Linked DNA regions of Homo sapiens. Each later gene encodes a partner of the first gene's protein in a complex. Each region holds a gene or a part of one and is shown in the gene's direction. Other genes may lie near its edges. The genes, in order: LIN37, RBBP4 and LIN9.

Region 1 (3,591 bases):
AATCATCAGCTCTGCAATTTCTTTGCTGTGTGCCTTTGAGCACGTGGCCTAACATCTCTGTGCCTCAGTTTCATCATCTTTAAAATAGGAATAAAAATCATATCTATCTGAGCTGGGCTCTATGGCATGTGCCTATAGCCCCAGCTACTTGGGAGGCTGAGACAGCAGGACCGCTTGAGCCCAGGAGTTCAAAACCGGACAACATCGTGATATCCTTTTTCAAGAAAAAAAAAAATCACATCTACCTCTAAGGGTTATTGTGATAATTCAGTGGGTTATTATTTGTAATATATAGCATATTTAAACCTTGCCACTGGGACAGGCACAGTGGCTCACACCTGTAATCCCAGCACTTTGGGAAGCCGAGATGGCTCACCTGAATCTAGGAGTTCAAGACCAGCTTGGTCAATATCATTAAGACTCCATCTCTATACAATTTTTTTGTAATAAATTTATATTATATTAAAACACATTTTTTTAAAACCCAAAAGGCTCATAAGGTAAGGTGATTGGCCTTACCTCCTGTCACAGAGCAATCACGTGGGACAGCTCTGGAACTCAGAGCTCTGGGCATCACTCCAGCCATCTCTGCCTGTTGCACCCTTTCAGGCTGCCTGGGCCTGGCTCTGAGATTGGCCAGGGCAGAGGACACGCACGCCCTTCCCTGGCCCAGTCAGCTGCCCACCTAGCTGGGGCCTGGGAGCTGACTCCTGCTGGGTCCTCTCTTGCCCCAGAGCTGGAGATGGCCAAAGCCCGGAACCAACTGGATGCTGTCTTGCAGTGTCTGCTGGAGAAGAGTCACATGGACAGGTAGGCCAGCGTGGGGTCACAGGGCCGGGCACCCTGGTGGGTTGGGCCCTCTGATCCTGGGTGGATTGGGTGGGACCCCACAGGCTGACTTGGGGAGGAAGGTGCTTAATGGGGAGGCTGCTCGGTGCCTTCCTTCTCTGGGGCCCTGGAACCCTGAGCTGAGAGATCTCTTCTGCCTCTAGGGAGCGTCTGGATGAGGAAGCTGGGAAAACACCCTCAGACACCCACAATAAGTGAGTTTTTCTGATTGGATTTGGAGTTGAGAGTTCGTGGTTGGTAACTTCTTTCCTTATCCAAGCCCTGACCGCTCAGCCCAGCGCTACCTCCATCGTGGCCCGGACCACTCCACCTGTACAAAGACCCTGTGGCAGGAGAAGCTTAGGTCCCCCCGTGGTTGCCACCTAGACCCCCATGGGTATGGGTGGGACAAAAGGCCCAAGAGGCAAGTGGGGTTCATGTGAGCATCTCAGGTTTGATACCAGTATCCCCAGGGTGCCCTCTGCAGGGTTTTGCACAGGCGTTTGTCTGAGGGTCAACTGTCTTTCCCCACAGGGACTGCTCCATCGCAGCCACTGGCAAAAGGTAAGGTGGCAGGGTCCCAGCCAGCTGACTAGAGGCTCCCAGCTCCTACCCCAGTCCTGACACTCCCTCTCCCTACGCAGGCCATCTGCCCGCTTCCCCCACCAGCGGAGGAAGAAGAGGAGGGAGATGGATGATGGGCTGGCTGAGGGAGGGCCGCAGCGATCCAGTGAGTAGACAGTGGCCCTAGAGGGTCGGTAAGGAGCCAAGGGCCTATGCAAGGATGCTCACACACCTCCCATCCCCACCTTCCCAGACACATATGTGATCAAGCTGTTCGACCGGAGCGTGGACTTGGCCCAGTTCAGCGAGAACACGCCACTGTACCCAATCTGCCGCGCCTGGATGCGCAACAGCCCCTCTGTGCGCGAGCGTGAATGCTCTCCCAGCTCACCCCTGCCCCCGCTGCCTGAGGATGAGGAGGTGGGATGGGTAGTGGGTCCCAGCCCAGCAGCCTGGTGCCAGGGCAGTGGGTGGATAGGCTCAAAGGATCCTGCCCCTAAGCTAGTGGGATAGACAGACACAGGTCCCTCACGTGAATCCTGGATCAGGCTAGGCACACAGATGTGCACTCTTAGGTTGGGGTGTGGATCAGAGTCCCTAGGGAAGACATACGTAACCACCTGGCCTGGGAGACAGGGAACAGGGTTACCCTGGACAGTTAGATGTGGACCTCCAAGATCAGGGGTTCCCAAGAGCCGAGGGGCTAGACAAGGGTCCTTAGTACAGACAGAAGTGGCCACCAGGCCTTGAGGAGCAGGGGCTGGGCAGGAATGGATGGGAGTCTATAAGCCATCTGACCCAGCGGGGTAGACAAGGGTCCCCAGGACAGACATATAGGACCCTTCAGACATATAGGACTGTCAGAAATGGACAGAGCTTCCTAGGTGGCACAGACGTGACCCCCTAGACAGGATTCCCTGAGGCAGGCAGACGCGACTCCCTGGGCTGACAGGTGTAGATGGAGTCTCTGGGCTGGATAGGAGAAGACAGGGGTCCCTGGGGCAGGCACACTTGACCCGCTGGCTGGTTGAGGTGTCTGCCCTTCATACATGCCTCCTGTCTGAGTCCCTTAGCGAGCCCCTCATGCCATTTGTTGCTGGGAAAGGCAGGAGGGATGAATGTGGATTCCCAGCCCCTCTGCTTTGACTCTCTTGGGCCTGGCATGGGGCCCTTGTGTCCCCAGGGCTCAGAGGTAACCAACAGCAAGAGTCGTGATGTGTACAAGCTGCCGCCACCCACACCCCCGGGGCCACCCGGAGATGCCTGCAGATCCCGCATCCCATCTCCACTGCAGCCTGAGATGCAGGGCACCCCTGACGATGAGGTGAGTATGCCAGGCTGGCCCAGGGTTATGGGGCACATGCGGTAGGGCTCAGGAATGGCCACTCAACCTGGCCTGTCTGTCCATGCAGCCCTCTGAGCCCGAGCCCTCACCCTCCACACTCATCTATCGCAACATGCAGCGCTGGAAACGCATCCGCCAGAGGTGAGCGTCCCCCAGCCTGCTTGCCCCTCGTAGGGCCCTTTGCAACTGCTGAGTCTCCCCTCTGCCTCCCCAGGTGGAAGGAGGCCTCTCATCGGAACCAGCTTCGTTACTCAGAAAGCATGAAGATCCTACGAGAGATGTACGAACGACAGTGATGTTCCCAGGTCCCCCCACACCAGTAAACATCCCCCAGCTCCACACTGGTGTCTGCTCCGGTCCCTCCTTCCTGGCCCAGGCACAAAGCAGTTGGCAGAGCTCTAGCACATTTATTGGGAGAGTAAGCCTGGGAAAGACTAAGGGAGTGGTGGCAGGGAGAAAGGCTGTGGGGAATCAGAGCGGGTGCTCAGTTGGGTCTTGAAGGAGAAGAGGAGGAGGGTGGGAGGTGGGTTGCCGAGGATATCTGGTTGAAGACTTGGGGGTCAAGACAAAGGGACTTAGGGGGATGGGGTCTGGTTAGAGTTGGGGAGGGGGCCTAGGACATCCGTGCAGAGTCTGGGGAGGTTGGGGTGGGAGAGTCTGTACAGTTTGGTGTTGGGTGTTCTAGTTGGCCTGGTGTCCAAGAGTTGGGGCAGTCGAAAAAGGGTTCCAGAGTCTGGTGTGGCTGGCTGGGGTTTCACGGCAGAAAATGGGCTGGAGGGGGCAGTTGTAGACTGTCTGGTTGCAGGGGAAGGATCGGGTCTTGGGAACCAGGCCTGGATGGTCTGGAGTGGGAG
Region 2 (3,747 bases), on another chromosome or scaffold:
TTAAAATTGTTTTTAAGTGAGAGAAGGGGATATGCTAGGAGGTATGCCAGCTCCAGAAAGCACATTGCCTAGAATACTATGGTAAATAAGTAGATTTTACAGAGAGGACAATGAGAAATTAATGAAAGATTTTAAGCAGATAAATAAAAGTCAGATTTGTGCTCCCCAAACCACAGCTACCTTTAGGGATGACAGCTTAACGTTTAATATAGAATTTAAGAGACAAAGATAGGTTATGTGATTTGCCTAAAGTCACTAAGCGAATAAATGGCAAAACCAGCTGGGCACTGCAGCGCGGGCTATGATCGCTCCATTGCACTCCAGCCTGGACGACAGAGCGAGACCCCATCTCTAAAAACACACACACACACACACACACACACACACACACATTTTTTTTTTTTTTTGAGACAGAGTTTCGCTCGTTGCCCAGGCTGGAGTGCAATGGGGCGATCTCGGCTCACCGCAACCTCCGCCTCCCGGGTTCAAGCGATTCTCCTGCCTCAGTCTCCCGAGTAGCTGGGATTACAGACATGCTCCACCACGCCCAGCTAATTTTGTATTTTTAGTAGAGACGGGGTTTTTCCATGTTGGTCAGGCTGATCTCGAACTTCCGACCTCAGGTGATCCGCCCGCCTCGGCCTCCCAAAGTGCTGGGATCACAGGCCTCAGCCACCGAGCCCGGCCTAAAATAATCATTTTTAAAAATCACAATCATAAATGGCAAAACCAGGTTTTTTGCTAATATGATCGAGGTGAAACATCAAGTTAGAAATCCCCTAATTAGCTTTCCGAGTCCTCTAACCTCGCACACTCTAATCTCACCGTTGGGAAATACATGGGGGTAACAACCCTGCAAACGCCTGAAAATATGGTTATCTTTAGAATTTACGAAGATAAATGTGATTAGGCACATGTGGAAGAAGTTCAAGAGACTGTAAATGAGGGAGGCCAGGTTTCGCGACTATTAAACCAGGTGGCTTTTTCCTTCAGCATCCCCAGGAGAAGTACGAACGCGACTACAACAGCCGGCACAAATGGGATCATGCCTGAAGTACCCATGGGGCACAGTAGAAAGAGCAGCAGGAAGCCGCGGGTAAGGAGAGGGGATGCCTGTGTGCTTACATGTAAAGAGAGAAGTAAGCCACCTACTCACACTCGTACTTCCTATTGACTGGCGGATACTTGGCCTTGATCGCCTTCTGTTCTTCAGTCAAATTGTAATCTCTAACATCTTCCTCTTCCTGCGCCATGACTGCAGGATTAGACACTCTACTTCCGCCCTTCATCCACCGGACTTCGGCCCGGAGTTACTACTTCCGCTCTAGACTCCGCCCCTTGGCGCACACCCTTAAAGGACCACACTCCTTTCTCGGAGTTGGCTGTTGACCTACTTTAGTCCCTACCCTGCCGCTTGGATCGCATATTTAAAAAGCCAAAACCCCATCTTCTGCGATTCCTTCATTACTAGTTCTTTCCAAAGACTAAGGAAAAACGTTGAAGGGCACCTTGAATGAAACCCGTCTGGGTCTGACTGGCGAGGTTCTTTCCCCCGCTTCACCCCCAAAATTGATAACTAGACCCGAAGGCATTCTAGATTTTTCATCTCAGTACTCTGAAAGGGTCGTAAGCTTAATAGCCTTCAAGAAAATGGCTGCCCTCTTGCCGCGGGAGTGTGCGGACCAAACCTCTCTCACGTGACCCTGACCGGGCGCAGTCCCGTCAACGCCGGCGCGCGCAATCGCTGGAAGTCGGCTCGGGGAGGCGTGGGGGGAGGGGCGGAGCGCGCGCCTCGGTCCCCGCGGAAAGCTACTCCGCGCGTCTGGATTGGTCGCGAACGCGGCTTCCCCGCCCATCCCGCCATTAGGAGCGCTCCCATTGGCTGATGTTGGCGCGAAGGTGCGCGAGTCAGCCCTCGCGCTGGGGGCGCAGGAAACAATAGAGGCCGCGCGCACAGAGCGAGCTCTTGCAGCCTCCCCGCCCCTCCCGCAACGCTCGACCCCAGGATTCCCCCGGCTCGCCTGCCCGCCATGGCCGACAAGGAAGGTGAGGGTGCCGGGGCCGACCCAGGAGGGCAGTGGGTGCCTGGGCTGAGCCGCGGCCTCGACATGGCCTAACAGTGAGGGCAGGCCCGAGTTTGCCGAGTGCAGTCCCCGGTACTGAAGGCGTGAAGAGGGAACTCCCCGCGGGGCGTGCTAACGGCTCGCCAGTTCCCTGGGACCGATTTCGGTCGCAGCTGGCGAAGCCAGCGGTGGGGCCCCCGGCCAGTGTTTGTTTCTCTTCCTGCCTCCGATATCGGTTTCTCGGCCTCTGTCCCGAGCGTGGGGACACCGCTTCCTACCCACAAGGCTCGGAGCTCGGGCCTCCTCGTCGGGCTTGTGAGTTTCGGCGCGCACGAGCGTGCTCCGAAGGCCTGGCTGGCCCCTTGGCCTGGAACGGGTAACGGAGTGTTTGGCGGGGATGGCCCGAGGAGTTTCGGCGCCGCGAAAGTGGAGAGTGTGGATGCCTCTGCCGTGGGGATTTAGACAAATCACCTCCATTTCATGGTTAGGCTGTAGGAGTCATGCAGGTGGCTTTGCAGAGGATTACTCGGTTTCCGTTTGTTTGCTAACTTAAATTTGTTTTTAAAAATTTTAGCAGCCTTCGACGACGCAGTGGAAGAACGAGTGATCAACGAGGAATACAAAATATGGAAAAAGAACACCCCTTTTCTTTATGATTTGGTGATGACCCATGCTCTGGAGTGGCCCAGCCTAACTGCCCAGTGGCTTCCAGATGTAACCAGGTGACATGACTCTCCCGAACGTTATTTTGATGTATTTTCAGTGTAGATTTCTCATATTGATTTTCTTTTTTCCGCTCTTCAGTCACCCGGAGAAGGCATGTGATCAAAACCTCTTGGTGACATTTTTTCTAGGCCACAAAGTAAGGCAAAATAACAAAATGATTTTGTAACTTACCTGACAAGAGAAAACATATTGGCGTTTTTTTCTCAATACTGAATTAAATAGCTGTAGCTGATGATAATACCTGTAATAATAGTGGCTGTACCAAATAATAGTACAAAACTTGTCAACTTTCAAAAAGTATTATGGCCAGGAGCAGTGGCTCACACTTGGAATCCGAGCACTTTGGGAGGCCCAGGCAGGAGACTTACTTGAGGCCAGGAGTTGGAGACCAGCCCTGGGAATACCCTCGTCTCTACTGCCCCCCACACAAAAAAAGAAAAAAGTATTACAATGAGTCTAGTCCTTACAACAAAAATTTTTTGTTTTTCTTTTTGAGACGGTGTCTCACTCTGTTGTCCAGGCTGGAGTGCAGTGGCGCGAGCTCGACTCACTGCAACCTCTGCCTCCCAGATTCGAGCGATTCTCCTGCCTAAGCCCTCCCAAGTAGCTGGGATTACAGGCACCTGCCACCACGCCTGGCTAAATTTTTTTGTATTTTTAGTAGAGACGGGGTTTTACCATGTGGGACAGGCTGGTCTCCAACCCCCTGACCTCTGGTGATCCGCCCGCCTCTGCCTCCCAAAGTGCCGGGATTACAGGCGTGAGCCACTGCACCTGGCCTCAACAAAACTTAATTTGAATTCTCGTAGTATGTCATGGTACCTGCCTTCAAGGAGCACATTGTCTAGTTGAAGTGGCAGATATAAACTAATAATTATAGTTATATATGGTGACAGCAGTTGTAGAGAGATAATTAGGGTACCTAGAAAACACCTGAAGGTGGAATGGCTTTCTTATA
Region 3 (3,747 bases), on another chromosome or scaffold:
TTAGAAAAGTATTAAAGGATACAGTTATTCATTGAAGCATTATTGGTAATTAAAAAATATTAGAAATAAACATAAATGCCCACACATAGGGAACTGACTATTTATGGTACATCCACACAATTGAATACTATGCTGCTGTAAGAGAGGAAGTTCTCTATTTACTGACACAGAGTGATTTCCAGGATATGTTATTAGATGCAAAAAGCAAATACGAAAATACACATACATATTCCAAAGTATAACCTTTGGAGTAGGAAATAAGTGGAAATACAATGTATATGTATCAGCTTAATTTTTCAAAAGGAAGCAGAAAGGATACATTAGAAACTAATTTGGGAATGGGGTAGGAGTTGGTGAGCAAGAAGGAATGACATTTTTCTGAGTGTTTGTTTCCCCAACAAATACAAGTAAATGCAAACAGAAATAAATGAACCTAACTATATTTCAAAGGAGTGACATAAACTTACTGAAGGGGATAAAAACTGATTCAGATAGCTTGAACATAGCATAGGTTGAGCATCCCAAGTCTGAAATGCTCCAAAGTCCAAAATTTTTTGAGTGCCAAAGTGAAACTCAAAGGAAATGCTCCCTGGAGCAGTTTGGATTTTGGAGTTTTGTATTTGGGATTCTCAACCGGTAAGTATAATGCAAATATTCTAAAATTTTAAAAAATCCTAAATCCAAAACACTTCTGGTCCCAAGCATTTTGGATAAGGGATACTCAACTTATATTTTGACTGTATACCTTTAGTCTGAACCAAAATTTAAATAAACATTGAACTCTAGTTAGTAGAATTTTTTCTCTTGGTGGCATGCATAGCAGTCCTGAAACTCTTTTTTTTTTTTTTTTTTTTTGAGACGGATTTTCGCTCTTGTCCACCAGGCTGGAGTACAGGGGCGCAATCTCGGTTCACTGCAACCTCTGCCTCCGGGGTTCAAGCGATTCTCCTGCCTCAGCCTCCCCAGTAGCTATGATTACAGGCATGTACCACCATGCCCAGCTAATTTTTATATTTTTAGTAGAGACATGTTGGCCAGGCTGGTCTTGAACTCCTGACCTCAGGTGATCCACCCACCTCGGCCTCCCAAAGTACTGGGATTACAGGCATGAGCCACCACACCCAGCAGCAGTTCTGAAACTCTTACTGTGTACTCTAGGACTGAGCAAAGAAGCAAATAAGTATATTGAACCTGGGAGGCAGAGGTTGCAGTGAGCTGAGATCGCACCACTGCACTCCAGCCTGGGCAACAGAGTGAGACTGTCTCAAAAAAAAAAAAAAAAAATTTAGGATAACGCGAGCCAGGTTTCTCACTGTTGAAGAAGGCAGTTATGAAGAGGGGGAAGACTAGAGTGAACCCTGTGGCATTAGATGGGAATAGGGGGAATCAGTATGAATTCATGGTTTATTTTATCTTTATGCTATATGTATAAGTGAGTGTATATGTCTGCTGAGAGAGCCAAAAGCAAAGACACCCTAATAGCAAAGAACACACTAGACCCAGATCTTGGTCTCTTATCTCTGTTCTCCAATTTAAAAAAGCAGGACTTCTTGAAAAAGAGACTGATTCCAGACCTGAGGCAGAGAAAGAAGATGAGCCCGGCCCACCTTATTATGCCAAGGAAGTAAAATGTGCCCCCAAATTACGGGGACGTGTCAAAAAGGGCCAGCTTGACAGGGTTCCCACTGGCCAAATCTGGGACAATTTGAGCTTCAGAATAAATAAATATAGTAAGAGATTATAACCCATAGAATAAAAGTTATGTCAGTATGGGTTCATACTGATACTAGTTCATTTTTTAAGGGAAACTACTTTGTAGTAAAATGCCAACTAATAAATATAGAAGCAGTGTTAAGAGTGAGAAAAACACCATTTTGCAACCATCATAGTAATAATTGATATAGACAAGAATCATCAACAGATGCTAAAATTGGTAGGTAAAAGTTTGATGACAAATAGGATGTTTACATAGCCTCAAAGTATCTCTTCACAACTACTTAGTACTTACAAAAAGGAAATCCTTTACTGTAGGGAAATCTGGCAGACACTTAACTTACCAATTGATCAAAGAGAACATCACCAGTAATGGGACAGGTCAACATCACGTGCCTTCTAATAAAGATGCCAGAGAACTCAGCACCACATTTGTAGTATTTCTGCCCAAAAATGCATAACTTCAGTCTAATCATAAGGAAACAAACAAACCCACATTGGGGGATATTACACAAAATAATTGGCTCGTACTCTTCAAAAATACCAAGGAAATACAAACTGGAGTGATTAGAGGTAATGAGGCACAGTGTTTGCAACTTATTCTTAAATTAGTAACGGGAAGAATTATACATTCACAGAGATCAAATGGCAGATCAAATGTAGTAAAACATAAACAGTAAATCTGAGTAAATGTTATCAAGAGTTCTTTGTTTTATTCTTTTAACTTTTTTTAGAAGTTTGAAATTATATCAAAATTAAAAATTACAAAAAATAGAAAATCAGAAACTGTTAAAGGAAAAAAACTTCTAAGGTAAGAGTACCACTTTAGTTTTAAATGCTAGTTTTATAAAAATTAAAATCTGAAAAGAGGGCACAAACACATACAGAAATAATCATGGCTTCTCGAACATGCGTCTCATGCTTCAATCATCTGTATTCAGCTTGCTCCAGACCAGGGGCTCCAGCCTGCAGATCAGCCAACAGATATGAGACGCAGGTGTGAGGAAGAAGCACAGGAAATTGTTCGGCATGCAAATTCCTCAACAGGACAGCCCTGCGTTGAAAATGAAAATCTGACAGACTTAATTTCCAGGCTTACAGCTATTTTGTTACAAATTAAGGTAAATCTTAGAGAAAATATTTTCTTAATTTGACACAAAGCAACCCACGCTAATTTGTTGCTAAGAAATTAATTCATTGATTATATCAGGTATTTTATGACTATATTTGAGCTATAATGCAATTAAATTTTGAAATTTTTTTCCCTTTAGTGTCTAGCAGAAGGAGGAGACCTGAATTCCTTTGAATTCAAATCACTTACAGACTCATTAAATGATATCAAGAGTACAATAGACGCTTCTAATATCAGGTAATTCGTTAGGTATACTCTAATCATTTTAATGTGAAGTTCATAGTAATTTTCAGTCCAGGTTTTAAGAATTATGCATATTTGTGAAGTACTCATATATTATTATCCGTTAAATATATTTGTAAGAGCTTTTCACTTATATCCAGCCTATGGACAGAATAGAAATTTCACATGGATTTTGTATATAAAGAAATCAGGACATATATTTAGGTTTGGGGTCAGCATGGAGGTTGAGCTTAGAGGTAGAGCTTCCCCAGTCAGTGAGAGACTCATCTTCTCCTTCCAGCCCCCCGTGGCTCCTTTGCTTCTTTAGAGCATATTTGTTCAACTACTACTGAAGTAGAATTATGGCTAATATATTAGAGGAGATTTATTCCTTCCCTAAGATTTATCATAGCTGTTTCCTAACTAAAATTCAGGTCTTCTTTTAAAAATTTTTTTCTTAATTTTTTGAAATAAAGTAGTTAACCATGTTTCTTCTTTCTTTAGTTGCTTTCAGAATAATGTAGAAATCCATGTTGCACATATTCAGAGTGGCCTGAGCCAGATGGGAAACTTACATGCCTTTGCAGCAAATAACACCAACAGAGACTGAGTAAAGATTTCATTATTCCAACTGCACGGGACATTGTTTTTGAGAAGTTCTTTTCCTTTATATAGGCTTC

What was found.
Region 2: the proteins of LIN37 (region 1) and RBBP4 are in contact, whole or in part, in a crystal structure (PDB 7N40), measured with the Homo sapiens proteins. Residues at the interface, in NP_061977.1 of Homo sapiens: Asn112 (codon at 1,702), Thr113 (codon at 1,705), Pro114 (codon at 1,708), Leu115 (codon at 1,711), Tyr116 (codon at 1,714), Pro117 (codon at 1,717), Arg120 (codon at 1,726), Arg124 (codon at 1,738); in NP_005601.1 of Homo sapiens: Thr37 (codon at 2,730), Ala39 (codon at 2,736), Leu40 (codon at 2,739), Glu41 (codon at 2,742), Tyr98, Asp99, Ser100, Glu101, Lys102, Gly103, Glu104, Phe105, Gly106, Lys114, Glu116.
Region 3: the proteins of LIN37 (region 1) and LIN9 are in contact, whole or in part, in a crystal structure (PDB 7N40), measured with the Homo sapiens proteins. Residues at the interface, in NP_061977.1 of Homo sapiens: Tyr95 (codon at 1,651), Ile97 (codon at 1,657), Leu99 (codon at 1,663), Phe100 (codon at 1,666), Asp101 (codon at 1,669), Arg102 (codon at 1,672), Val104 (codon at 1,678), Leu106 (codon at 1,684), Ala107 (codon at 1,687), Phe109 (codon at 1,693), Ser110 (codon at 1,696), Glu111 (codon at 1,699), Asn112 (codon at 1,702), Thr113 (codon at 1,705), Pro114 (codon at 1,708), Leu115 (codon at 1,711), Tyr116 (codon at 1,714), Ile118 (codon at 1,720), Cys119 (codon at 1,723), Arg120 (codon at 1,726), Trp122 (codon at 1,732), Met123 (codon at 1,735), Asn125 (codon at 1,741); in NP_001353174.1 of Homo sapiens: Lys99, Ala101, Ser102, Gln103, Lys104, Ile105, Gly106, Arg108, Leu109, Arg110, Leu112, Leu113, Lys114, His119, Trp121, Cys122, Ile123, Glu125, Trp126, Phe127, Thr227, Leu237, Phe238, Leu272, Ser273, Asn274.

Annotation. Positions count from the first base shown.
Region 1 is NC_000019.10:35,751,442-35,755,032, forward strand, and holds the end of LIN37 (protein lin-37 homolog), read left to right. Parts: intron 1-734; coding exon 735-810; intron 811-992; coding exon 993-1,043; intron 1,044-1,362; coding exon 1,363-1,392; intron 1,393-1,472; coding exon 1,473-1,558; intron 1,559-1,645; coding exon 1,646-1,812; intron 1,813-2,575; coding exon 2,576-2,716; intron 2,717-2,804; coding exon 2,805-2,878; intron 2,879-2,951; coding exon 2,952-3,033; 3' UTR 3,034-3,078; downstream 3,079-3,591.
Region 2 is NC_000001.11:32,649,277-32,653,023, forward strand, and holds the start of RBBP4 (histone-binding protein RBBP4), read left to right. Parts: upstream 1-1,931; 5' UTR 1,932-2,030; coding exon 2,031-2,046; intron 2,047-2,079; exon of another isoform or gene 2,080-2,156; intron 2,157-2,637; coding exon 2,638-2,785; intron 2,786-3,747. Other genes in the region: ZBTB8OS (protein archease), read right to left, coding at 1,157-1,289. UniProt on the Homo sapiens protein: Core histone-binding subunit that may target chromatin assembly factors, chromatin remodeling factors and histone deacetylases to their histone substrates in a manner that is regulated by nucleosomal DNA.
Region 3 is NC_000001.11:226,232,431-226,236,177, reverse strand, and holds part of LIN9 (protein lin-9 homolog), read left to right. Parts: intron 1-2,654; coding exon 2,655-2,834; intron 2,835-2,984; coding exon 2,985-3,082; intron 3,083-3,571; coding exon 3,572-3,677; 3' UTR 3,678-3,747. UniProt on the Homo sapiens protein: Acts as a tumor suppressor. Inhibits DNA synthesis. Its ability to inhibit oncogenic transformation is mediated through its association with RB1. Plays a role in the expression of genes required for the G1/S transition.